Linked DNA regions of Homo sapiens. The protein of the gene in region 1 interacts with the protein of each later gene in a biochemical or structural test. Each region holds a gene or a part of one and is shown on either strand. Other genes may lie near its edges.

Region 1 (3,500 bases):
TTTCAGCTAGAAGCTGGGTGCAGTGGCTCACACCTGTAATCTCAGCATTTTGGGAGGTTGAGGTGGGAGAATCACTTGAGCTGAGTAATTCAAGACCAACCTGGGCAACATAGTGAGACCCTGTCTGTATTAAAAATTTAAAAATAAATATAAATAAGTTCCAAAAAGAGGTTATTGAAATTATAGATTTTTTCTCATCCAAGTTCATGGAATTCTATACTTGTACAACTGGAGTTTAAGAACTACTACTGTGGAATGAGACTGCATTTTAAGGCCCAGAATATTTTCCATTTGTTGAGATTTCCTTAAGATAAGTACCCATGAGTAATATAGCTGGTTCAAAAGGTACACACAACTTATAATTTATGCTACAGATGCCATCTGGCTTTCTTGAAGAGACGTACATGTCCACAGTGAATGAGTATACATCCATAGACCTTTGATTCCTTGGATCATATGATTGGCAGGCAAAGAACTCTATAGACGGCCCATCCTAGCAGCTCACATTTGCTGCCACTCTGTTAAATGCTGGTCATCTGGAATTGTTTATTCTCCTCATGTTATCATTACAAGCCAGAAATAAAAGCATGAATATTCAGGTGCTGTTTACCTAATTCAGGAAAACCCCTCCCAGGAGCATGAGGAGGTCTTTTGTTGCTCTCGCTCTGGAACCGGGTTTGGGCAGCCCAGGCTGCCTGCCAGATGAGCCCTCCAAACCCAGGATTCCTCTCCTGTGTGCCCACAAAGCAAACACACGCCCCTGTTTGCCAAGTGAATCAATGGAGTCTTTGATGCTTTGAGAGAATTTGACATAGCCTGCCAATTTAGCATTCACAGAAATGGTTAAAAGATCATGGTTTGCTACATTTCTATCCTAAAAAGAATCTGGCTAGTGGTGTCTGTGATGCTTTTGTATATAGAATCAGTCCCCTCAGTTTGGCTTTGGACAACATAGATGTTGGAAGTAAGCCATTCATAGTAAAACATATTTAGTGATCCTCTCACAATGGTGGCCTCTGTTTCCAATCTTGGGCTGTGTGTATCTAACAACAAACAATTCCAGGTTCAGTGAGCAGCCCAGTGTGTGTCAGACATGTTATTTACTCCGTAGAGGTTGTCTTCACCTCACATAGATGACCATAGGTATGGGGTTCTCCTGCCCTCTGAGTAGCGTGAGCTCAGTGACAGGGGCTCTAGCTCCATGTTGTTATCCACTGCTGTCTCTAAGCAGGAATCTGAGAAGAACTTAGATTCACCAGGGGTGCTTCAAAGATTCTAACAAGCAAGAAAGGCTGAAACTGCCCTTGTCTCTTCCCTTATAGATATGGATTCCATGAGAGTTCACATGGGGAAAAAAGCTCCACAGCTAAAAGTGTTTTCACATCCATTGAGTGACAACTAAGGTCCTTCCCACCTCAGACTTCTCTCCTTTTTTTTTGAGACGGAGTCTCGCTCTGTTGCCCAGGCTGGAGTGCAGGGGCATGATCTCGGCTCACTGCAAGCTCTGCCTCCCGGGTTCATGCCATTCTACTGCCTCAGCCTCCCGAGTAGCTGGGACTACAGGCACCCACCACCACGCCTGGCTAATTTTTTGTATTTTTAGTAGAGACGGGGTTTCACCGTGTTAGCCAGGATGGTCTTGATCTCCTGACCTTGTGATCCGCCCTCCTCAGCCTCCCCAAAGTGCTGGGATTACAGGCGTGAGACACCGCGCCTGGTGACCGCTCTCCTTTTAAAAACAGAATGCCAAAGCTAAGCCCTGCCATGTCCTGGTTTGGGACAGACTGGCTGAGCTGTTTGGCTTCCTGGGTGTCTTTTAATTGCCAGTTTGTAGCCCCTTGAGTACTCTCTTCAGTGCATCCATTTTCCTTGAGAAGCTGGCACCGCCTTCCCAGAGTACTGGTGGGATCTGAGGAACGAGCTGGGGTTGCCCAGTAGATGCAAGTATCCTGCTTCAGTTTCCTAAAGAGGAGCTCCTACAGTGTTCTTAGAATGAAAGCTAAGAACTGGCACAGGATCTATTTGATAAACAGCTGTCATTTGTAGCCATCCTCCCAGATGTATGACAGCAGAGTGTTCTCTGATGGAAAGATCAGCACCCAGATTCCCAGCCCCAGCGGGTTCCTTTCCCTGAGCCCCTAGGTTACTGCCCTGTAAAACCCTTGTTTCTTTCCAGATCACTGAAGAACAAATAGTTGAATTCACTAGTCCTTGTGCATCTTCTCCCTGCCTTCATGAAGCCACCCTTGTTTTTTTTTATCTGACAAACCACTGACAGAGACAGCCTGGTCCAGATAACATCTTGGTTTCACCTTCTCAGGTGGAGCCATTTTTCCTCTACAGCTCATAACCTTACCACTATTATTTCCCCTAGATTGATGCCAAGAAGGAACAGCTAGCAGATGCCCGGAGAGACCTGAAAAGTGCTAAGGCTGATGCCAAGGTCATGAAGGATGCAAAGACGAAGAAGTATGTACCTGGTATTGTGAAAGTTGGGGCTGGTAGAGAAAAGTGTGCAGCATCTGTCAGGGCCCCTGGGGCCCTGGCTTTTCGATGGTTTCTGAGAAATGTCTTTTGGAAATCTCTATACTAGGGCTTTTATTGACTCAAAGTGGCAGGATGGGTACAGTGTGCTCTTGTCTAGAGCCCAGGCCTGGTTCTTGAGGACTTTGCTATTCTTCTAGGGTAGTAGAGTCAAAGAAGAAGGCTGTTCAGAGACTGGAGGAACAGTTGATGAAGCTGGAAGTTCAAGCCACAGACCGAGAGGAAAATAAACAGATTGCCCTGGGAACCTCCAAACTCAATTATCTGGACCCTAGGATCACAGTGGCTTGGTAAGTGTTGAGCCCTCCTTGAGCTCCTGCTGCTAGCTTAAGAAAGGTGGAGGGGGTTCCGAGAGCACTGGTGGCCTTCACATGCCATTCCTAAGCTACACACTTTAGTCCTCTGGGGAAACTTCTGGCTTCAGCTGTGTACAAGTTACTCTGGTTGCTGAACCTTGTCTGTAAATGCATTGCAACATTCTGGTTGCTCCTAAATGGTCAGTGCTGTTACACTGCCTTGTAGTGTATATTTTTAAGAGGCAGGTGCCATCCCTATTCCTAATGGAACTTTAGGACAGGAATGGAAACTCTTAGCTTCTGGAAGAATAGGAAAGAGCCCATCCATCTCTACACTTCAACAAAACTTTTCGTTGAATTTTTTTGCAGTTGAAGGTAGGAACAAGAGATAAAGATGAGAATACAGATCTGAGCAACTTACACAGAGAGGCAGAGGGACCTTTAACAAAAGCAGATAAATACTAGGTTTCTCTGTGTGTCACACACAGTGTCACATAACATCTGAAACAAGTGGCTTTGTTATGGAAGATGTTTAGTTTGAGCTGTTAAGTTCTGAGCATAGGTGGAGATATCCTCCCCTATGGCACTTGCTAGTCCGGGCTAAAGTTTCCATCTAGGTCTTTTGTACCTCTTTCTGCTCGTTTTGCCTTGTTTGGTGCT
Region 2 (3,074 bases), 4.1 Mb from region 1:
CAAACTCTGTGCAGAAATAGAGAACGTGTGTGAGTAAAAGAGGGAGAGGGGAAATGGCAGCAAACAACCAAGCTAATTGTTTTTTCCTGTGCTCTATCCTCTATCCAAATCTTAACACTGGGATAAGGACTCTTTTTAAAACTTAGAACAACCTAATAAGGGATGGCTTGAACTAATCTTTTCAGGTGGTTTAAAAATTAGATTTAAGGCCAGGTGTGGTGGCCTGTAATACCAGCACTTTGGGAGGCCAAGATGGTTCAATCACTTGAGCCCAGGAGTTTCAGACCAGCCTGGGCAACATGGCAAACCTGGTCTCTACAAAAAATACAAAAATTAGCCAGGTGTGGTGGCTTGTGCCTGTAGTCTCAGCTACTCGGGAGGTTAAGGAGCATCACCTGAGCCTGGGGAGGTTGAAGCTGCAGTGAGCAGTGATCATGCCTGGGAAACAGAGTGAGACCTTGTCTCAAAAACCAAACCAAGAATAGAAAAATAAGCTTCCCGTCTCCCTCCTCTCCCTCTCCCTCCTCTCCCTCCCTCCTCTCCCTCTCCCTCCTCTCCCTCTCCCTCTCCCCACGGTCTCCCTCTCCCTCTCTTTCCACGGTCTCCCCCTGATGCCGAGCCAAAGCTGGACTGTACTGCTGCCATCTCGGCTCACTGCAACCTCCCTGCCTGATTCTCCTGCCTCAGCCTGCCGAGTGCCTGCGATTGCAGGCACGCGCCGCCACGCCTGACTGGTTTTCGTATTTTTTTGGTGGAGATGGGGTTTCGCTGTGTTGGCCGGGCCGGTCTCCAGCTCCTAACCGCGAGTGATCCGCCAGCCTCGGCCTCCCGAGGTGCCGGGATGGCAGACGGAGTCGCGTTTACTCAGTGCTCAATGGTGCCCAGGCTGGAGTGCAGTGGCGTGATCTCGGCTCGCTACAACCTCCACTTCCCAGCTGCCTGCCTTGGCCCCGCAAAGTGCCGAGATTGCAGACTCTGCCCGGCCGCCACCCCGTCTGGGAAGTGAGGAGCGTCTCTGCCTGGCCGCCCATCGTCTGGGATGTGAGGAGCCTCTCTGCCTGGCTGCCCAGTCTGGAAAGTGAGGAGTGTCTCTGCCCGGCCGCCATCCCATCTAGGAAGTGAGGAGCGTCTCTGCCAGGCCGCCCATCTTCTGCAATGTGGGGAGCGCCTCTGCCCTGCTGCCCCGTCTGGGATGTGAGGAGCGTCTCTGCCCGGCCGCCCCGTCTGAGAAGTGAGGAGACCCTCTGCCTGGCAACCGCCCCGTCTGAGAAGTGAGGAGCCCCTCCGCCCAGCAGCCACACCCTCTGAGAAGTGAGGAGCCCCTCCGCCCGGCAGCCACTCCGTCTGGGAAGTGAGGAGCGTCTTCGCCTGGCAGCCACCCCGTCTGGGAGGGAGGTGGGGGTCAGCCCCCCACCCGGCCAGCCGCCCCGTCCAGAAGGGAGGTGGGGGGGTTAGCCCCCCGCCCGGCCAGCCGCCCCATCCAGGAGGGAGGTGGGGGGGTCATCCCTCTGCCCAGCCAGCTGCCCGTCCGGGAGGGAGGTGGGGGGGGTCAGCCCCCCCGCCCGGCCAGCCGCCCCGTCCGGGAGGTGAGGGGCGCCTCTGCCCGGCCGCCCCTACTGGGAAGTGAGGAGCCCCTCTGCCCGGCCAGCCGCCCCGTCCAGGAAGGATGTGGGGGGGTCAGCCCCGGGCCCGGCCAGCCGCCACATCCGGGAGGTGAGGGGCGCCTCTGCCCGGCCGCCCCTACTGGGAAGAGAGGAGCCCCTCTGCCCGGCCAGCCGCCCCGTCCGGGAGGGAGGCGGGGAGGTCAGCCCCCCGCCCGGCCAGCCGCCCCGTCCAGGAGGGAGGCGGGGGGGTCAGCCCCCCGCCCGGCCAGCCGCCCCGTCCGGGAGGTGAGGGGCGCCTCTGCCTGGCCGCCCCTACTGGGACGTGAGGAGCCCCTCTGCCCGGCCAGCCGCCCCGTCCAGGAGGGAGGTGGGGGGGTCAGCCCCCCGCCCGGCCAGCCGCCCCATCCGGGAGGTGAGGGGCGCCTCTGCCCGGCCGCCCCTACTGGGAAGAGAGGAGCCCCTCTGCCTGGCCAGCCGCCCCATCCGGGAGGGAGGTGGGGGGGGTCAGCCCCCCACCCGGCCAGCCGCCCCATCCGGGAGGGAGGCGGGGAGGTCAGCCCCCCGCCTGGCCAGTCGCCCTGTCCCGGAGGGAGGCGGGGGGGTCAGCCCCCCGCCCGGCCAGCCGCCCCGTCCGGGAGGTGAGGGGCGCCTCTGCCCGGCCGCCCCTGCCCGGCCGCCCCTACTGGGAAGTGAGGAGCCCCTCTGCCCGGCCACCACCCCGTCTGGGAGGTGTACTCAACAGCTCATTGAGAACCGGCCATGATGACAATGGCGGTTTTGTGGAATAGAAAGGGGGGAAAGGTGGGGAAAAGATTGAGAAATCGGATGGTTGCCATGTCTGTGTAGAAAGAGGTAGACATGGGAGACTTTTCATTTTGTTCTGTACTAAGAAAAATTCTTCTGCCTTGGGATCCTGTTGATCTGTGACCTTACCCCCAACCCTGTGCTCTCTGAAACATGTGCTATGTCCACTCAGGGTTGAATGGATTAAGGGTGGTGCAAGATGTGCTTTGTTAAACAGATGCTTGAAGGCAGCATGCTCGTTAAGAGTCATCACCACTCCCTAATCTCAAGTACCCAGGGACACAAACACTGCGGAAGGCTGCAGGGTCCTCTGCCTAGGAAAACCAGAGACCTTTGTTCACTTATCTGCTGACCTTCCCTCCACTATTGTCCTGTGACCCTGCCAAATCCCCCTCTGCGAGAAACACCCAAGAATGATCAATAAAAAAGAAAAAAAATGGAAAAAAAAAAAAAAAGAAAAATAAGCTTCCCATTATGCAAGAGTCCTATGGCCTTTGTGCTTTCCTACCCTGTGAACTAAGAGTCTAAATCTGTGAAAAGATGTCCATGAGGTAGAGTTGAATTAAAATAGCAGGTTGCAGAACAATAAAAAAAAAAAAAAAAAAAAAAAACAAACCAAACCAATCCAAACCAAAACAACTGAATTTACTGTATAACAGTAGCTCT
Region 3 (3,500 bases), on another chromosome or scaffold:
AACCTAGAATGCTGGTCTACCTCCCTGTCTTTTAATTAAAAGGCTTCAGAATTGTAAAAAGAGAATAAGAATCCCTTCACGAAGAACCACACCTACAGTTTTCCCATCAGGAAGGTGCTCTAGGGGCAAAACAAATGACATGTGGTGTCTTACCCTGCTTGGACCCATAGGTCTATACTTTGTCCTAGGAAAGAAGCCAAGGCTCTTTCTTTAGCGATGTAAACACCTGGTACCAGACTCAACATACTCTCGCCCACCCAAACCCCTGCAACACTGCAGGGAATGGGCTGAGGACAATGGGGCACATGAGTGTGGAGATAGGCTCAAGGACCGGGCCATCTAGAAGCTGAGGCAAAAATCCCTCCTCTAGTTGGTCTAAGCGGGGTGTTCAGAGACTGTGTGTGCCAACACAGTCCACTTCAGCACCAGAGAAAAATGAACGCAAGCATTGTGTTTTTATTACAGGTGCCATCAAGCATTTCCACTTCTGAAATGGACACCGGTAATAAGTCTTCTAAAAGTTCACGCTACAAGGGTTTAGAAAAACAGAGCTCCTCTCTAGATTAAGGAGAGGAAACAAACAAACAAACAAACAAAAAAGAACTTTTGGTAAGACCCTCAAAAATAAATTTGTACGCCAAGCTGAGGTGCTGGCTTGGAAGGCTGCCTTGCAAACAAGGTGCATTATCTACACGTGAAACGCCCAAAGGTTCTCAAAGGACCACCAGCAGCAATGTCCGGGAACTTGTTAGAAAAGTGAATTATTGGGCGCCAGCCACCTGTGTTTTAACAAGCTTTCCAGGAGATCCTAACACACATGGAAGTTTGGGACCGCTGCTCTCAGGATGAGAGGTTAAGATGCTTGAGGAAGGCCTGACCCTGTTACCTTAATGTCAGTTTTGAGCTTCTCATAGTTGACATCGATGGGATCCTTGCTGCTATCATCAGACCCTCCCCTGAGCAGACTGTAGGCCACCTCGATGTCCAGCAGGTTGTCAAGCATTTCCACCTTGGCCTGGAGGAGCAAAAGAAAGCCCCCGACTTAGGTATCATGGTGAATGAGACAGACTCACCCAGGTGGCAGAGAAAACCTACATGCAGAGAAGGTCCAACACAGTGAATGGCAAACCCTCCTGCTGGTCAGGGCCAGCCTGTTACCTGCTGCACATATTGAGAGCTCATAAGGACTTTCTGGAATGTTAACAAGGCCTTGTGGCCTGGGGGAGTTGAGAGGTGGAAGAACTGTCTTTCCTCTCGTACATGCTGACATTTGGGACCTACAGTGAAGGTACTTTAGACAAATGGGTCCTGAGCCAGGAGCTGTCTTAAAAGGCAGGGAGGGAAAATGGGGAGGAAGATGCTGTTATGAGGGAGAGGCTGTCCCTCTCCAACAGCTCTTTCCCCAGTGGATTTGGTAGAACAGGGGCAGGAAAAACAGCTCTGCCTCCATCAATGTGGGTAGAAACCCAACTTCAAAACAAGGGCAAGAGGGTGGCCCTCCCAGCATTGGTGCTGCCCTCAGGGATCATGATGGGGAGGGACGGCTGCAAGGTAGTCACACCCCAGCCCAGCAGACCTGCAGTCCCTTCTGAACCCTTGCGCTACCTGCACACTGTCTGCATTGTTCAGGAGCGGAGGCTTCTTCATCCCAAAGTCGTGGGGGATCAGGGTGTAAAAGCGATTTGAGAGATCCAGGATCTGAGAGTCGCTGCTGCCCTGAGACACCGCCTGGAGAGGAGGGGACAGAAGGAATGCAAGACTGAGGGAGCAGCTCCAAGCCCCCGGCCAGGCTTTCTCTTTTAGCAGGTGGGTGCTGCAGCAGGTCCAGAAGTAGCGTGGTATGTGCACATGCCAGGACACATGGGAAACGACCAGAAGACCATCTTCCTGTTAAAGAGCAGGGCAGGACCCCCATCCTCTAAAAGCACTGCTCAACACGTGATGGGCTTCTCCCATGAAGTTTCATTTGTACAAAGAACTGTGCAGTTACAGACATTTGAAACCCCGCCACAACTATGCAAAATGTTAACTGTAAAATCTAGGTGGTGGGCTAATGACTATTGCTGTAAAATTCCTTCAACTTTTTGTATGTTTGAAACATTTTCATAATAAAATGTTGGGAGGAGGTTGCCCATCGCTATAAAATTCAGTCAGGCTCCCTGCCTCCACTGACCTTCATTGGAATTAGTTTTTACTGTACCTGGAGGTTGAGGTGGCCAGGCACAGAAAGGCTAAGCAATCCTTACACTCACTGCCAGTGTCACTTGGTGCTCTATATGCAAAGGGTGCACAAAAAATGCACAGAGATGGAAGAGCGGGGCCACTGGGATTCCAGGAATTTCGCAGACAGCCTAGGTGACCACAGGAAGGTCAAGGGAATATGAAGTGGCACCCAGCAGGTCCGAAGCCCCACGCCTGCTTCTCGCTGTGACATGGACTTCACCAAGTTGTACAACTTCCATCTGTGCTGCCCAGGTGGCTCTGGCAATGGGTAAGGATGCTATTCCAGCTCTTCTTCCTGAAGACTATTGCATGGGAAGAAGCTGGGGCCGAGGAAAGCCTTGTAAGTTCTCAGTCAGTAAGGAACAAGGAGAGAGGTTCACTGCTCAGAGCCAGCTGTAACTGAAGTTGACAGATCCGGTTCAGCGCCTTTTCTCCAGCACCAGCCAGAAAGCCCGCTGCCTGGGCCCACTTCTGCTTCCTGTGTGCTTTCCTTCTTTCTACAGGCCAGGCCTGCACCCACCCACAAATATAAGCGGAACCCTCCAGCCCCTCCAGGATGTAGCTGGAAGGCTCCGGGACTGGTAGACCTTGAAAGATGCTCAAAGAATGTTGAAATAACATGAATGAAAGAGGCTTCCATTTGATGACTTCCTAGTAACTGCAAAATAAACTCTGCCTAACTCTTAAGGACACATAAAATAAAAACCACAACACAGGTGACCCTTGAACAATCGATTTGAAGTATGCGGGTCCACTTATACACAGATGTTTTCAATAAATACAGTTAGCTCTCTACACCTGTGGGCTCTGCAGTTGAGAATTCAACCAAACTCAGATAAAAAATATAGTATTCTCAGGCCAGGTGTGGTGGCTCATGCCTGTAATCCCAGCACTTTGGGAGGCTGAGGCAGGCGGATCACTTGAACCCAGGAGTTTGAGACCAGTCTGGCCAACATAGTGAAACCCCACCTCTACTAAAAATACAAAAAAATTAGCCGGGTGTGGTGGCCCATGCTTGCAACCCCAGCTACTTGGGAGTCTGAGGCACGAGAACCGCTTGAACCTGGGGATGGAGGTTGCAGTGAGCTGAGATTGTGACACTGCACTCCAGCCTGGGGGACAGAGCAAGACTCTGTCTCAAAAAAGAAAAAGAAAGAAAAATCCCACCAAAAAAAAAAAAAAAAAATCTCAGGATGCGAGACCCACAGATGTGCAGGGCCAACTTTTCTCCTCCATGGGTTCTGCAGGGCACTCTAGGACTTGAGCATGAGTGAATT
Region 4 (3,500 bases), on another chromosome or scaffold:
TGGCAGCTGTTACTATGTTATTACATAGAATAATCCTCACTCGGCCAAGGTTGGGGGATTGCTTGAGTCCAGGAGTTTGAGACCAGCCTGAGCAACCAAGTGAGATGCTGTCTCCACAAAAAATAAAAATGTAAAAATTAGCAGGGTGTGGTGGCATGTACCTGTAGTCCCAGCCACTCAGGAGGTGGAGGCAGGAGGATTGCTTGAGTCCAGGAGGTTGAGGCTGCAGTGAGCCATGTTCGTGCCACTGCACTCCAGCCTGTGCGACAGAGTGAGACCCTGTCTAAGAAATCATCATCATCATCATCATCTTCCTTACTTTACAGACGAGGAAACTCAAAGTGGCACTTAATTTGCCAAAGATCACAAAGATCTAGTAATGGCAGAACTGGAATGCACATCTAATTCTACTTCCAACTTCATTCCTCCTTCCACTTTTCCTTAGCCAAGAATGTAAATCAGGAACATTTTGGTGCTTCTGCCAGCGACATTTACCATTATCATGAGCTCTTACATGGTTTCTCGGGTGCACTCAGATTTTCAACGTCTACTTTTGTATTTGCAGAACATCATCAAGAAGGTGATCGGGCAGAAGTTTGTGTACAAGTTTGTCTCTTTCCCGGAGATCCTGAAGATGGATCCTCACGCGGTGGAGATCAGCCGGGAGAGCCTTCTGCTGCAGGACAGCGACTGCAAGGCGTCTCCGGAGGGCCGCGAGGCCCACAAACACGGCCTGGCCGCCCTCAGAAGCACGAGCCGCAACGAATACATCCACTCAGGCCTGTACTCGTCCTTCACCATTAATTCCCTGCAGAACCCACCAGACGCCTTCAAGGCCATCAAGACGGAGAAGCTGGAGGAGCCGCCCGAAGACAGCCCCCCCGTGGAAGAAGTCAGGACTGTGATCAGGTTTGTGACCAATAAAACCGACAAGCACGTCACCAGGCCGGTGGTGTCCCTGCCTTCCACGTCAGAGGCTGCGGCGGCGTCCGCCTTCCTGGCCTCGTCCGTCTCGGCCAAGATCTCCTCTTTAATGTTGCCAAACGCTGCCAGTATTTCATCCGCCTCACCCTTCTCATCTCGGTCCCCGTCCCTGTCCCCCAACTCACCCCTCCCTTCTGAACACAGAAGCCTCTTCCTGGAGGCCGCCTGCCATGACTCCGATTCCCTGGAGCCCTTGAACCTGTCATCGGGCTCCAAGACCAAGTCTCCATCTCTTCCCCCAAAGGCCAAAAAACCCAAAGGCTTGGAAATCTCAGCGCCCCCGCTGGTGCTCTCCGGCACCGACATCGGCTCCATCGCCCTCAACAGCCCAGCCCTCCCCTCGGGATCCCTCACCCCAGCCTTCTTCACCGCACAGGTAAGAGTCATTCCTGTCATCTAAGCCACAGCCAGCTTCAGTGGCTTAGCAAAAAAGGAAGAGCAACTAAAGAGACTTCCTTCTGTCCCTCAAAACGTTGTCCTATGACTCGTACCGAGGTCACTGTGTAAATGTGAAGGGAAGCTGCTTTTCCATCCTCAGACCAAGGGGTGCACATGAGACAGGGTTTGGTTTGTCGACTCTAGTGGGATGCTTGATTGGTTTCTTGCTTTTAGCGGCCTAAAGTGACCATAGGTGGAACACGCACACTGGCCGACAAAGCAGATCTCACCAGCGATTTCCAAGGGAAAGTTGAGCGGGCCAGTTTACATTTCGGGAGGCGCTTGGGCTTTATGAAATTTTTATGGCAGAATCTTCTCTGGGGGCGCTTAATAAGGAGCCACTTGTGTTCTGTTAACAAGAAAATAGATGTCAACTGATGCCGCCATCGCATGTCAGTGTGGAGCTGTGGTCATAGCGTAGGTAATAAGAAACAAAGGGGCCACCCCAAACAGCTGCTTCGCTGAAAGCAGCACTACTCTGAGAAAGCCCCAGTCCACAGCACTGGCGAGAGGACAGCAAACTTGCAGAGCCAAAAAAGCCTTCGTTGTTATTAGTCCCAAAGAGAAAGCAGCCTTTTCCTTTAAATCAGATATTCAGATGCTCTTTCTTGTCCAGCTGACAATTGCAGTGCAAAGGCGTAGTAGGTGCTGGGAAACCATATTTCTCCTTCCCCTTGAAAATTGGATGCAATTTTAGTGGCAGAGGTTAAAAGAGTATTCGTTTTAGGTTCACAGACCTGCATTCAGTTCCTGGCTACCCTGCTTCCTAGGAGTGGGACTGTGGGCGGTTGCTCTCTGGGCCAGGTTCCATGTGTGGAAAATGGGACCATGGACAGGCTTTGTGAGCTGGGGACACCTGGTAGCATTGTTAACCGTGGAGCTGCACCCGTCCCCTGCCTCTGTAATCTCATCGTAGTTGTCCCTGTTGTCATTAGCAGCAGCCGCGGCAGCATATGACGGGCTCCCCACGTGTGCCAGGCACTGCTCCAGATGCTTTACATGCATTGCCTGTATCCACACTTACAGCAGCCCTGTCACGTGGATACAGGTTGAGCATCCTGTTTCCAAAATGCTTGTGACCAGAAGCATTTCAGAGTTCAGATGTTTTCAGATTTTGGAATATTTGCATGATACTTGCCAGTTGAATATCCCACATCTGAAAATCTGAAATCCAAAATGTTGCAATGAGCATTTCCTTGGAGTGTCATGTCAGGACTCAGAAAGTTTCAGATTCTGGAGGATTTGGGATTTGGGAATTTTTGGATTTGGGATGCTGAGCCTGTGCTATTATTATCATCCTGTTTCCCAGCTGAGATAAATGAGGCACAGAGGTAAAGTAGTTCGTCCAGGGTCCCACAGCCAATAGGTGGTAGAGGTGGCTTTGGATCCAGTGTCTGCCTCCAGAATCCATGCTCTCAAATGAAATGCATTCCCGCTGCGAGAAGGCAGTGTCCCTGATCACGATGGCCGTCCATGGAGCACCTGAAAGCAGCTCTGGGCCACTGTCCTCTCCACGCTTTCTCTGGACTGGATTCTGCCCAGGATTTCATGACAGCTCAAGCCTGTGAGCTGGTGGTGACGCGCGCCACTGCGGAGGGGGAGGGCCAGGGGATCAGGATATAGGTCAGAGTGAGCACGTGTGCTCTTAAATCAGGCATCTTCCAGTTAAGCAAGGCTGTCCAGTGACCAAGGGCTGCTGAGCAAATGGCTCAGAAACAGCAGCTCCTGATGTAGCTCAGGGGAGTATCTTGAGAGGCAGGGCCAGGGTAGATGATCTGAGCATCTCCTCCCCTGGCCTCCTGTGTGTTTACAACTGTCAGGGTGAGAAAGGTCCGAAGCCAGGCCAGGGCTGACTCTGATTTAGGTGTCTGTGTTCCCTGGGAGCCTGGATCACCTTCTCAGAACAGAGTGAGGCAGATGCCAGCCCTGTCTCAGAGGAAGTCAGCTCAGCCAGCCCTGTGGATAATGTGGATGGAGTGGTGGCTCCCATCGGTGGGGCTGAGGGCGTGAGAGAAGGATCAAGGGTGGATGCCCAACAAATGGATGCAGAGGGCACGACCAGGAGCCAGAAGCCACCA
Region 5 (3,500 bases), on another chromosome or scaffold:
AAAAGAAGAAAAAAGAAAAACCACAAAAATTAGCCGGGCGTGGTGGCGAGCGCCTGTAACCCCAGCTACTGGGGAGGCTGAGGCAGGATAATCGTTTGAACCTGGGAGGCGGAGGTTGCAGTGAGCCAGGATTGTGCCACTGCACTTCAGCCTGGGTGACAAAGCGAGACTCTGTCTTGGAAAAAAAAAAAAAAGAACAGTGTGTTCTGGGGTCTCACATTTCATTGACTGCTTTGTGAGTCCTTGTTCCCATAACACATTGTTTGATGATTGCTGCTTTGTGGTATGTTTTGAGAACTGCTCACCAAATTCTTCCCAACTTTATTCTTTGTGAAGACTTTTCAGGCTGAGTGCAGTGGCTCACATCTGTAATCCCAGCACTTTGGGAGGCTGAGGTGGGAGGATCACTTGACCCCAGGAGTTCGAGACCAGTCTGGCCAATATAGCGAGACCTCATTACTTGGACATGGTGGTGTGTGCCTGTGGTCCCTGCTACTCAGGAGGCTCGGGTAGGAGGATCACCTGAGCCTGGGAGGTTGCCGCTGCAGTGAGCCATGATCCTACCACTGCACTCCATCCTGGGCGATAGAGTGAGACTCTGTCCCTAAAAAAAAAAAAAAAAAAAGCTGGGCACAGTGGCTCACGCCTGTAATCCCAGCATTTTGGGAGGCCAAGGCGGGCAGATCACCTGAGGTCAGGAGTTCGAGATCAACTTGGCCAACATAGTGAAACTCTGTCTGTATTAAAAATACAAAAAGTACCCAGGCATGGTGGCTTGCACCTGCTGCTTGAGAGGCTGAGGCAGGAGAACCGCTTAAACCTGGGTGGCAGAGGTTGTGGTGATCTGAGATCGCACGACTGGGCTCCAGCTTGGGCAACACAGCGAGACTCCACCTAGAAAAAAAAAAAAAGAGTGGGCGCAGTGGCTCACCCCTGTAATCCCAGCACTTTGGGAGGCTGAGGCAGGCGGATCACCTGAGGTCAGGAGTTTGAGAGCAGCCTGGCAAACATAGTGAAACCTTGTCTCTACTAAAAATACAAAATTAGCCAGGCGTGGTGGCAGGTGCCTGTAATCCCAGCTACTCGGGAGGTTGAGGCAGGAGAATTGCTTGAACCTGGGAGGTGGAGGTTGCAGTGAGCTGAGATCGTGCTGCTGCACTCCAGCCTGGGCAAAAAGAGTAAAATTCTGTCTCAAAAAAAAAAAAAGACTTTCTCAGCTGGTCTGACACATTTATTACTCTTCTAGAATCAGTCACCCACATCCACCCATCTGTCCACCCTACAGATACTCACTGAAATACAGTCCTGGCTACAGGAGGTGCATATGACAGAAAAACATCTCCTTCCTTATGGAACTTATATTCTGTGTTTTGTTTTATTATTTTTTGAGACAGAGTCTCGCTCTGTTGCCCAGGCTGAAGTGCAGTGGCATGATCTTGGCTCGCTGCAAAGCTCTGCCTCCTGGGTTCCCGGCAGTTCTCTTGCCTCAGCCTCCCGAGTGGCTGGGATTACAGGTGTGCACCACCACACCCGGCTAATTTTTGTATTTTTAGAGACGGGGTTTCGCCATTTTGGCCGGGCTGGTCTCAAACTCCTGACCTCAGGCTATCCCCGGCCTCCCAAAGTACTGGGATTACAGGTGTGAGCTACCGTCCCTGGCCTAAGGCGGGAAGATCTTTTGAAGCCAAGAGTTTGGTACCAGTGTGGGCAACATAGTGAGACCTTGACTGTGTGTAAAACAAAACCAAAACAGATAAAAGACACAGGTGCCAGCAAATTCATGTGAAGGGTCAGATAGTAAATATTTTTGGCAGGCCATACTGTCTCAGTTGCAGCTACTTAATTCTGCCGTAGCAGCACAAAAAGCCATAAATCAACAACATGTAACTGAGCAAGAAGAGCTGTGTTCTAATAAAACTTTATTGGCCAGGTGCAGTGGATTACACCTGTAATCCTGGCACTTTCGGAGGCCGAGGCAGGAGTATCACCTCAGGTCAGGAGTTCAAGACCAGCCTGGCCAACATGGTGATACTCCGTCTCTACTAAAAATACAAAAAGTGGCTGGGCGCAGTGGCTCACGCCTGTAATCCCAGCACTTTGGGAGGCCGAGGCAGGTGGATCATGAGGTCAGGAGTTCAAGACCAGCCTGGCCAAGATGGTGAAACCCCATCTCTACTAAATATACAAAAATTAGCCGGGCGTGGTGGCGAGCGCCTGTAATCCCAGCTGCTTGGGAGGCTGAGGCAGGAGAATTGCTTGAACCTGGGCAGCAGAGGTTGCAGCGAGCCGAGATCGCGTCACTGCACTCCAGCCTGGGCGATAGAGTGAGACCGTCTCAAAAAAATAAAAAATAAAAAAATTAGCTGGGCATGGTGGTGAGCACCTGTAATCCCAGCTACGTAGGAGGCTGAGGCAGGAGAATCGCTTGAATCTGGGAGGAGGAGGTTGCAGTGAGCTGAGGTAGTGCCAGTGCAGGCCAGCCTGGTCAACAAGAGTGAAACTCCGTCTCAGAAAAAAAAAAAACTTAATTTACAAAAACAAGTGGTGGGCCAGATTCACTCTAAGGGCCATAGTTTGCCAGCCCTGGGCTAACGGTGCCTGATGATCTTGAGAATCAGTTTGTCAAGTGATAAAGGAATTTACTGAGGAGATTGGTCTTTCTAAGGACATAAAGTTGGGTGATTTTTCTTTTCTTTTTTTTTTTTTTTGAGACGGAGTCTCGCTCTGTCGCCCAGGCTGGAGTGCAGTGGCACAGTGTCAGCTCACTGCAAGCTCCGCTTCCTGGGTTCAAGTGATTCTCCTGCCTCAGCCTCCCGAGTAGCTGGCATGTTTACTTTTATCTGGTTTGAACTGTTTCTTCCTGAAGCCTTATTAGGTTTAACAGTTTTTCTGTGGTCTTGTGCTCTGCAGTAGAGTATCCTGTAGTAAGCGGGATGGTTTGGATGTGTGCTGTCCAATACTAGGCACTCATGTGCCAGTACGGACTACAGATGTGGACAGTGTGACCGAGGAGTTGAATGTTGAATTCAGCTGAATTTGGATATAGATTTAAATAGCCATGTGTGTCTAGTATTGACCCCTTGGACTCTTAGACTTTTTAAAAATTAAATTTTTTTTTTTTTTTTTAGAGACAGGGTCTCACTCTGTCACCCACACTGGAGTTCAGTGGCTCGATCATAGCTCACTGCAGCCTCCAGCTTCTGGGCTCAAACAGTCCTCCCACCTTAGCCTCCCAAGTAGCTGGGACTATAGACATGCACCACTATGCTCGGCTGATTTTTTTCTGTTTAGTAGAGATGGGGTCTGCTGTGTTGCTCAGGCTGGTCTTGAACTTGTGGGTTCAGGTGATCCTCCCAACTTGGCCTCCCAAAGCACTGGGATTACAGGTGTGAGCCACTGCTTTGGCTAAAAAATAATTTTTTTTTTTTTTTTTGAGACGGAGTTTTGCTCTTGTTCCCAGGCTGGAGCGCGATGGTGTGATCTTGGTTCACTGCAACCTC
Region 6 (3,500 bases), on another chromosome or scaffold:
ACCTCCACCTCCAGGGTTCAAGCGATTCTCATGCCTCAGCCTCCCGAGTAGCTAGGATTACAGGTGTGTGCCACCATGCCTGCTAATTTTTGTATTTTTAGTAGAGATGGGGTTTCACCATGTTGGCCAAGCTCATCTCGAACTCCTGACCTCAAGTGATCTGCCCGCCTCGTCCTCCCAAAGTCCTGGGATTACAGGTGTGAACCACCATGCCTGGCCCCTTTATACTTTAGATACTATGAGCAGTAATATAATATCTATACTGGTGGAATAGTTGATATTCATTAGATTGAGATACAAAGAATATGATGTTGCTTTATCTTTTTGGTATGTCTGAATAATTGTAGTTTGAGAGAAGCAGTTTTTTTTTTTTTTGAAATGGAGTCTTGCTCTGTCGCCCAGGCTGGAGTGCAGTGGCGCGATCTTGGCTCACTGCAACCTCCATCTCCCAGGTTCAAGCGATTCTCCTGCCTCAGCCTCCCAAGTAGCTGGGATTACAGGCACGTGCCACCACACCCAGCTAATTTTTATCTTTAGTAGAGACGGTGTTTCGCCATGTTGGCCAGGCTGGTCTTGAACTCCTGACCTCAGGTGATCCACCCACCTTGGCCTCCCAAAGTGCTAGGATTACAGGCATGAGCCACTGCGCCTGGCTGAGAAGAGCAGCTTTAAAGTACATCATAATAATGGTGGGTGTTTCCTTCAGTTAGGAAATGAGCATTTTGCTATGATTTTTATTTTAAAAAAGAGATGGAGAATTTTTGAAGGTATCCTTATATAATGATTTATCTGCACATGTATCATTATTAATGTATCAAAGGAAAATGGAAAGTGACATGTTGATTAACTAGATTTGATTAATTTGATTAATTAGATTTCTTCCAACTCAGTGACATTTGTAACACGTGACAGGTTGCTTGATAAAGGGTAACATTTCTCTTACAAATGCTACTTTTGTTATTTTTTTTCTTTTGGTGATCTGTGCTGTCATTTGCATGTTAGTAATCTGATTTTAAGAATTTTGTATTTTGGGGAACATAACCATGTTAAAAGACAGTTTATTTTAGTACTGAAAGAAAATAGTTACTTTTACTCTCATTTATTTAATTTCTGTTCATTTTTTCCCTGTATTTAGAAACAAAAAAAACATCACGAATCTTTCCCGCTTAGTTGTCCGCCCCCACACAGATGCTGTTTACCATGCCTGCTTTTCTGAGGATGGTCAGAGAATAGCTTCTTGTGGAGCTGATAAAACCTTACAGGTAAAACACATCTCTTGAGAAAAATGCAAAGAGGCATGTATCCAGTTTTGTGCAGATCAGAATATGTTTAAATCCTAAAATTCAAGAAAATTGCAACTTAGAAATAACAGAGGAATCCAGCTCTCTTGAACATTTTATTAAAGGTTTCTCTAGAGATTTAAAAGATACAGTTACATGTTTTCCTAATTCTAAACTTACAGGTGGTAAGGAAGTGCCCTTTACCCTGCCAGTCAGTTCCCAGCCATCCATTTGTCAGCTAAGGGTAGTGAGGAAATAATTGTTAGAAGACGTAGGGCTTCATAGCACAGGGAATAGGGCTGTGATTAAAAAACAGTGATTAGGAAAATACCTATTTTATCAAAGTCTTAGGCATAGGTTTTTTTCTTGTAAATAGGAACTGGACTAGACTATTTCCTAAGTTGTTTTAAAGAATTTCCTTTAAGATTCCCTTTGTTTTCAGAAAATATTAATGAGTACTTTTCTTTATGTTTGTGTTCTGCCTTTTGATTTTGCAGAGAACATGATGAAATTAGTTAAAACTTGTATTTAGGATACTTTTAGTCTTTGCAAGATTATGACTCCATAGCTTATGTCTATATGTGTACTTTATTACTAATTTTATTAATCTTGGCTTTTGAGTTCCAGAGAGAATGCATATTAAATGAAATGTTTTATTTGATTGTTAAGAATTTGCCAAAATAGTCTCAAGAGCTGAAGCTGTGCTCTGACACTTCTTTTTGATGGCAGCGGCGGGCTGCCTGGAGTGGCTGCTGCCATCATGCTGGCTGCAGCAGGGAGGCGCAGCTGGGGCTGCATGCTCTGTGGAGCTGGCGGTAGCTGGGGACAAGCAGGAACCCTACCCCTTCTGAATTGGGGCAGGAGCTCCTGGTTCCTGCTGTAGCCGCCCAAGCCACAGCTGTGGACCTGGGAACCCGCTCCATGGAGCAGGCCAGAGCCCTGCCCTCCTGGGTGTAGCTGTAGCCGCCCAAACCACAGCTGCAGGCTCGGGCCTCCGGCTCCACAGAGCAGGCAGGACCCCTTCCCCCTGGTGCAGCTGTAGCTGCCCAAGCGGTGGCTGCAGACTCAGGCATCCCTGTACTCTTGGGGGACCTGGAAGGACCCCCTGCCCTTGTAGGCTTGGAAGTGCCTGCTCCCGCTGCCTGACTTCTCCCTACTGTTGGCACCCACTCTGATCTTAGAGCAAAGCTGGGGCTGAGCCTGGGTGCTGTTGCAGCCCGGCCAGATGTGCACATGCTTGGGGCAGTGCTGACATGCCAGCCCCCTGCCGCCTCGGCCCCCTCCGGACTTTGGGTGCTGATGAGCATAGGAGGGAAGCCAAGGGGGTGCTGAGGGCAGTTTGATACTGGCCTGCAGGCTCCCCTTGGCACCTACAGCCTGGGTGCCATTCATGGCAGCAGGAGGCAGACAGGTTCCTGGGTGGAAGGGGGCGGGTCACCAATGAGGCCCCACCTTCAGGCCACAAAGGGCCTGAAGACTGGGGGCTGGGCTGCTGGTGTGGACTGAATGGACTGGAGTGGGAACTTATAGTGCCTTTTCCAGGCTTGCCCATGTCTGCCCATGGACCAGTTGGCATGTACTTCCTCCCTTCTGAAGCCCATAAAAGCCTCGGGCTTAGCCAGTGCTGAGCAGACACTGGGACAACCAGCTGCAGAGAGGAGCAACCCACTCTAGTGCCCCCTCTTTGCTGAGAGCTGTGCAGATGACAGGAGGACCAGCTGCAGAGAGGAGCTACCCTCTCTGCTGATAGCTGAACACTTGTCAGGAGGACTTGCCTAGCAGAGAGGAGCTACCCTCTCCTGAGCTGTGGAAAGGAGCTGCCCCCCGCAGGTTTATTGAGCTATTTTATCGCTCAATAAAGCTCCTGTTTGTCTTGCTCACCTTCCACCTGTCAGCGTACCACATTCTTCCTGGTTGTAGGACAAGAACTTGGGATCCCACTGAATGGTGAGGCTAAAAGAGCTGTAACACAAACAGGGCTGAGACATGCCCCTTGCTTGCCGCATTGCAAGTGAAGATAAGTAAAGAAAAGCTGCGGCCCTTCGGGGAGCCCAGACTTGGGAGCTCCCCAAGCTAGGGCTGTGACTCCCTCTTTGGGGCCCCGCGGTTCCTGGCATCTCCAAGCTTCTGGGCACCACCGTGTTCCCCGGTGCCAGCGTGTAAGCTGCTTGTGGTGTGCCTGGTCCAGCCACAGCCTCACAGAGAGCCAGAGCCCATGCT
Region 7 (3,500 bases), on another chromosome or scaffold:
TGCCACCATGCCAGGCTAATTTTGTATTTTAAGTAGAGACGGGGTTTCTCCACTTTGGTCAGGCTGGTCTCGAGCTCCTGACCTCAGGTGATCCACCCGCCTTGGCATCCCAAAGTGCTGGGATTATAGGCATGAGCCACCGTGCCTGGCTGTGCTTTCCTTTTTATTGGTAACAAGTATTCCATTGTGTGGATTAACAGTTTATTCACAGGCTAAAGGATATCTGGGTATACTTTGCTTCTACTTTTTTTTTTGAGATGGCATCTTGCTCTGTCGCCCAGGCTGGAGTGCACTGGCGCAATCATGGCTCACTGCACCTGCCACCTCCCAGGTTCAAGCGATTCTCCTGGCTCAGCCTCCCAAGTAGCTGGGACTACAGGCATGTGCCACCACGCCTGGCTAATTTTTGTATTTTTAGTAGAGATGGGGTTTCACCATCTTGGTCAGGCTGGTTACGAACTCCTGGCCTCAAATGATCTGCCTGCCTTAGCCTCCCAAAGTGTTGGGATTACAGGCGTGAGCCACCGTGCCCAGCTTGGTGAGACAGTTTTGGAATGTAATGATACAAGTTTATATCCTTATTCAGTAAGCCTCAACCCTTGAATTTATACTTCCCTGTAGTATAAATTCAAGCTCATAAGCCCATGACTTTGGAATACTTCTCATGGATTACCTAATTTTCATTTCTTATTTTTTTACACATTTGTTTATTCAACAAACATTTTTGCTTACTACCTCTACAGTAGAATACAGTAAATGGACACGAAGCAAATACCTAGTGCTGCAGATAGCTAGTGCCAGGGTGTGTGTTGGATGCTAGAAGAGTAAGATAATTAAAGTAGAAGAGATTGCTTTGTGAAAAGACCATTGCAGGACAGTGTGATGAGAACTGTAAGATTTAGGTACAGTAGTGCTTAGTTTTTTTGTTTTTGTTTTGTTTTGTTTTGTTTTTTCGAGATGGAGTCTTGCTCTGTTGCCCAGGCTGGACTGCAGTGGCCTGGTCTTGGCTCACTGAGACAGGGTTTCGCCATATTGGCCAGGCTGGTCTCAAGCTCCTGACGTCATGATCTACCTGCCTTGGCCTCACAAAGCGTTGGGATTACAGGCTTGAGCCACTGCGCCTGGCCAGATTTCATTTTAATATTGTCATTTTAATGAAATAACTTTTTTTTTTTTTCTTGAGGCAGTCTTGCTCTGTCACCCAGACAGGAATGCAGTGGCATGATCTTGGCTCAGTGTAACCTCTGCCTCCTGGGTTCAGGCGCTCCTCATGCCTCAGCCTCCCAAGTAGCTGGGATTACAGGCATGCGCCACCATGCCCAGCTTATTTTCTTTGTATTTTTAGTAGAGCCTGGTCAGGAACTCCTGGCCTAAGCCTCAAGTGATCTGCCTGCCTCAGCCTTCCAAAATGCTGGGATTACAGTCATGAGCTACTGCCCCTGGCCCAGCTTTTTTTTTTTTTTTTTTTTTTTTTAAAGTAATAAAAGTAATATGGTCATGGTAAAAAATTCAGTACAGAATTCAGTATAATACAGAAGATTTAAGAAGCAAGTGTCAGCTGTGGCTCCACTAATTATTTTTAATTTAAAAATTTTTTAGCAGCTGGGCGTGGTAGCTTACGCCTGTAATCCCAGCGCTTTGGGAGGCCGAGGTGGGCAGATCACAAGGTCAGGAGATCAAGACCATCCTGACCAACATGGCGAAACCCCGTCTCTTCTAAAAATACAAAAATTAGCCAGGCGTGGTGGCATGTGCCTATAATCCCAGCTATGCAGGAGGGTGAGGCGGGAGAATTGCTTGAACCCGGGAGGCAGAGCTTGCAGTGAGCTGAGATGGCGCCACTGCACTCCAGCCTGGGCGACAGAGCGAGACTCCATCTCAAAAAAAAAAAAAAAAAAAATTTTAGCATGTTAATTTAGGGTATCTAATTGTTTTGGTGTGTTATTCTTTTACTTGTGCATGGTTTTGTTCATTTTTCAAAAATTGAGTCCTAGCATACATGTATATGCATGTATGTAAAGTGCATTGATCTTTTAAAGATCAGTGAGGATCACTAGAGGTCAGGAGTTTGAGACCAGCCTGGCCAACATGATGAAACCCCGTCTCTACTAAAAATACAGAAATTAGCTGGGAGTGGTGGCACATGCCTGTAGTCCCAGCTATTCCAGAGTCCGAGGTGGGAGAATTGCTTGAACACGGGAGATAGAGGTTGCTTTGAGCTGAGATTGCACCACTTAGTGCCAGCCTGGGCGACGCAGTGAAACTCCCTCTTAAGGATAAAACATCATTTTTAATTTTAATTTTCTTTTTTAGAGATAGGATCTTGCTTTGTTGCCTAGGCCGCTTTCACCCTCTTGGGTTTGGGTGATACCCCACCTAAGCCTCCCAAGTAGCTGGGACTGCAGGTGCCTACCACCATGCCTGGCAGTGCACTCATATTTTTTTGAGACGGAGTCTTGCTCTTTCGCTAGGCTGGTGTGCAGTGGCGCTATCTCAGCTCACTGCAACCTCCGCTTCCCCGATTCAAGCCATTCTCCTGCCTCAGCCTCCTGAGTAGCTGGGAGTACAGGCTCGTGCCACCACTCCCCAGCTAATTTTTGTATTTTTAGTAGAGACGAGGTTTCACCATGTTGGCCGGGCTGGTCTCGATCTCCTGACCTTGTGATCTGCCCGCCTCGGCTTCCCAAAGTGCTGGGATTACAGGCGTGAGCCACCACGCCTGGCCCAGTGCATTCGTCTTAATTGTACAGTTTGATGATTTTTTTTACATTTATTTATACCCCTGTAACGACCATGTAGATCAGTATATAAAACCCCTTCAATGCTCCATAAGTTTTCTCATGCCTCTCCCGAGTCTATACTCTACCACCTAGGAGCAACAACTTTTTTGATATCTATCATTATTGATTAGTTTTGTCTGTTCTTGAATTTCATATAAATGAAATCATATAGAATATACAGTCATCCCTCAGTACGCTTGGAGGATTGGTTCTGGGACACCCTCAAATAACAAAGTCTGAGGATACTCAAGTCCCTTGTAACCTTCACACATCCTCCTGTATATTTTAAATTATCTCTGGATTACTAATAATATATATACAATGTAAATACCATGTCAATGGTTGTTACATGGTGTTTTTTTAATTTGTAGTTTTTATTTTGTTATTATTTATTTACTTTTGATTGTTTTTGATTCATGATTGGTTGAACCTATGGATGCAGAGTCCACAGTTTCAGAGGGCTGACTTTATATATATATATATATTTTTTTTTAGAGACTGGGTCTTGCTTTGTTGGCTGACAGTGGCACAATCATAGCTCACTGCCACCTCAAATTCCTGGCCTCAAATGATCCTCCTGCCTCAGGCTGCTGAGTAGCTGGGACTACATGTGAGCACCACCATGCCCAGCTGATTTTAAAATTTTTTGTAGAGATGGGATCTCCCTATGTTGCCCAGGCTCAAAGATGTAGTTTTGATTGAACTACTTTACTCTCCCAC

The links.
Region 2: the proteins of TOP1 (region 1) and RBL1 interact in a test that uses a peptide from one of them, tested with the Homo sapiens proteins (one study listed by BioGRID).
Region 3: the proteins of TOP1 (region 1) and PARP1 form a complex in vitro, tested with the Homo sapiens proteins (one study listed by BioGRID).
Region 4: the proteins of TOP1 (region 1) and ELK3 interact in a test that uses a peptide from one of them, tested with the Homo sapiens proteins (one study listed by BioGRID).
Region 5: the proteins of TOP1 (region 1) and BTBD2 form a complex in vitro, tested with the Homo sapiens proteins (one study listed by BioGRID).
Region 6: the proteins of TOP1 (region 1) and APAF1 interact in a test that uses a peptide from one of them, tested with the Homo sapiens proteins (one study listed by BioGRID).
Region 7: of the proteins of TOP1 (region 1) and SRPK2, one has a biochemical effect on the other in vitro, tested with the Homo sapiens proteins (one large-scale study listed by BioGRID).

Annotation. Positions count from the first base shown.
Region 1 is NC_000020.11:41,119,322-41,122,821, forward strand, and holds part of TOP1 (DNA topoisomerase 1), read left to right. Parts: intron 1-2,374; coding exon 2,375-2,469; intron 2,470-2,684; coding exon 2,685-2,834; intron 2,835-3,500. UniProt on the Homo sapiens protein: Releases the supercoiling and torsional tension of DNA introduced during the DNA replication and transcription by transiently cleaving and rejoining one strand of the DNA duplex.
Region 2 is NC_000020.11:36,998,924-37,001,997, forward strand, and holds part of RBL1 (retinoblastoma-like protein 1), read right to left. Parts: intron 7-3,074; coding exon 1-6. UniProt on the Homo sapiens protein: Key regulator of entry into cell division. Directly involved in heterochromatin formation by maintaining overall chromatin structure and, in particular, that of constitutive heterochromatin by stabilizing histone methylation.
Region 3 is NC_000001.11:226,366,594-226,370,093, forward strand, and holds part of PARP1 (poly [ADP-ribose] polymerase 1), read right to left. Parts: intron 1,729-3,500; coding exon 1,606-1,728; intron 1,016-1,605; coding exon 887-1,015; intron 1-886. UniProt on the Homo sapiens protein: Poly-ADP-ribosyltransferase that mediates poly-ADP-ribosylation of proteins and plays a key role in DNA repair.
Region 4 is NC_000012.12:96,246,375-96,249,874, forward strand, and holds part of ELK3 (ETS domain-containing protein Elk-3), read left to right. Parts: intron 1-565; coding exon 566-1,360; intron 1,361-3,500. UniProt on the Homo sapiens protein: May be a negative regulator of transcription, but can activate transcription when coexpressed with Ras, Src or Mos. Forms a ternary complex with the serum response factor and the ETS and SRF motifs of the Fos serum response element.
Region 5 is NC_000019.10:2,005,715-2,009,214, reverse strand, and holds part of BTBD2 (BTB/POZ domain-containing protein 2), read left to right. Parts: intron 1-3,500.
Region 6 is NC_000012.12:98,676,290-98,679,789, forward strand, and holds part of APAF1 (apoptotic protease-activating factor 1), read left to right. Parts: intron 1-1,135; coding exon 1,136-1,262; intron 1,263-3,500. UniProt on the Homo sapiens protein: Oligomeric Apaf-1 mediates the cytochrome c-dependent autocatalytic activation of pro-caspase-9 (Apaf-3), leading to the activation of caspase-3 and apoptosis. This activation requires ATP. Isoform 6 is less effective in inducing apoptosis.
Region 7 is NC_000007.14:105,378,922-105,382,421, reverse strand, and holds part of SRPK2 (SRSF protein kinase 2), read left to right. Parts: intron 1-3,500. UniProt on the Homo sapiens protein: Serine/arginine-rich protein-specific kinase which specifically phosphorylates its substrates at serine residues located in regions rich in arginine/serine dipeptides, known as RS domains and is involved in the phosphorylation of SR splicing factors and the regulation of splicing.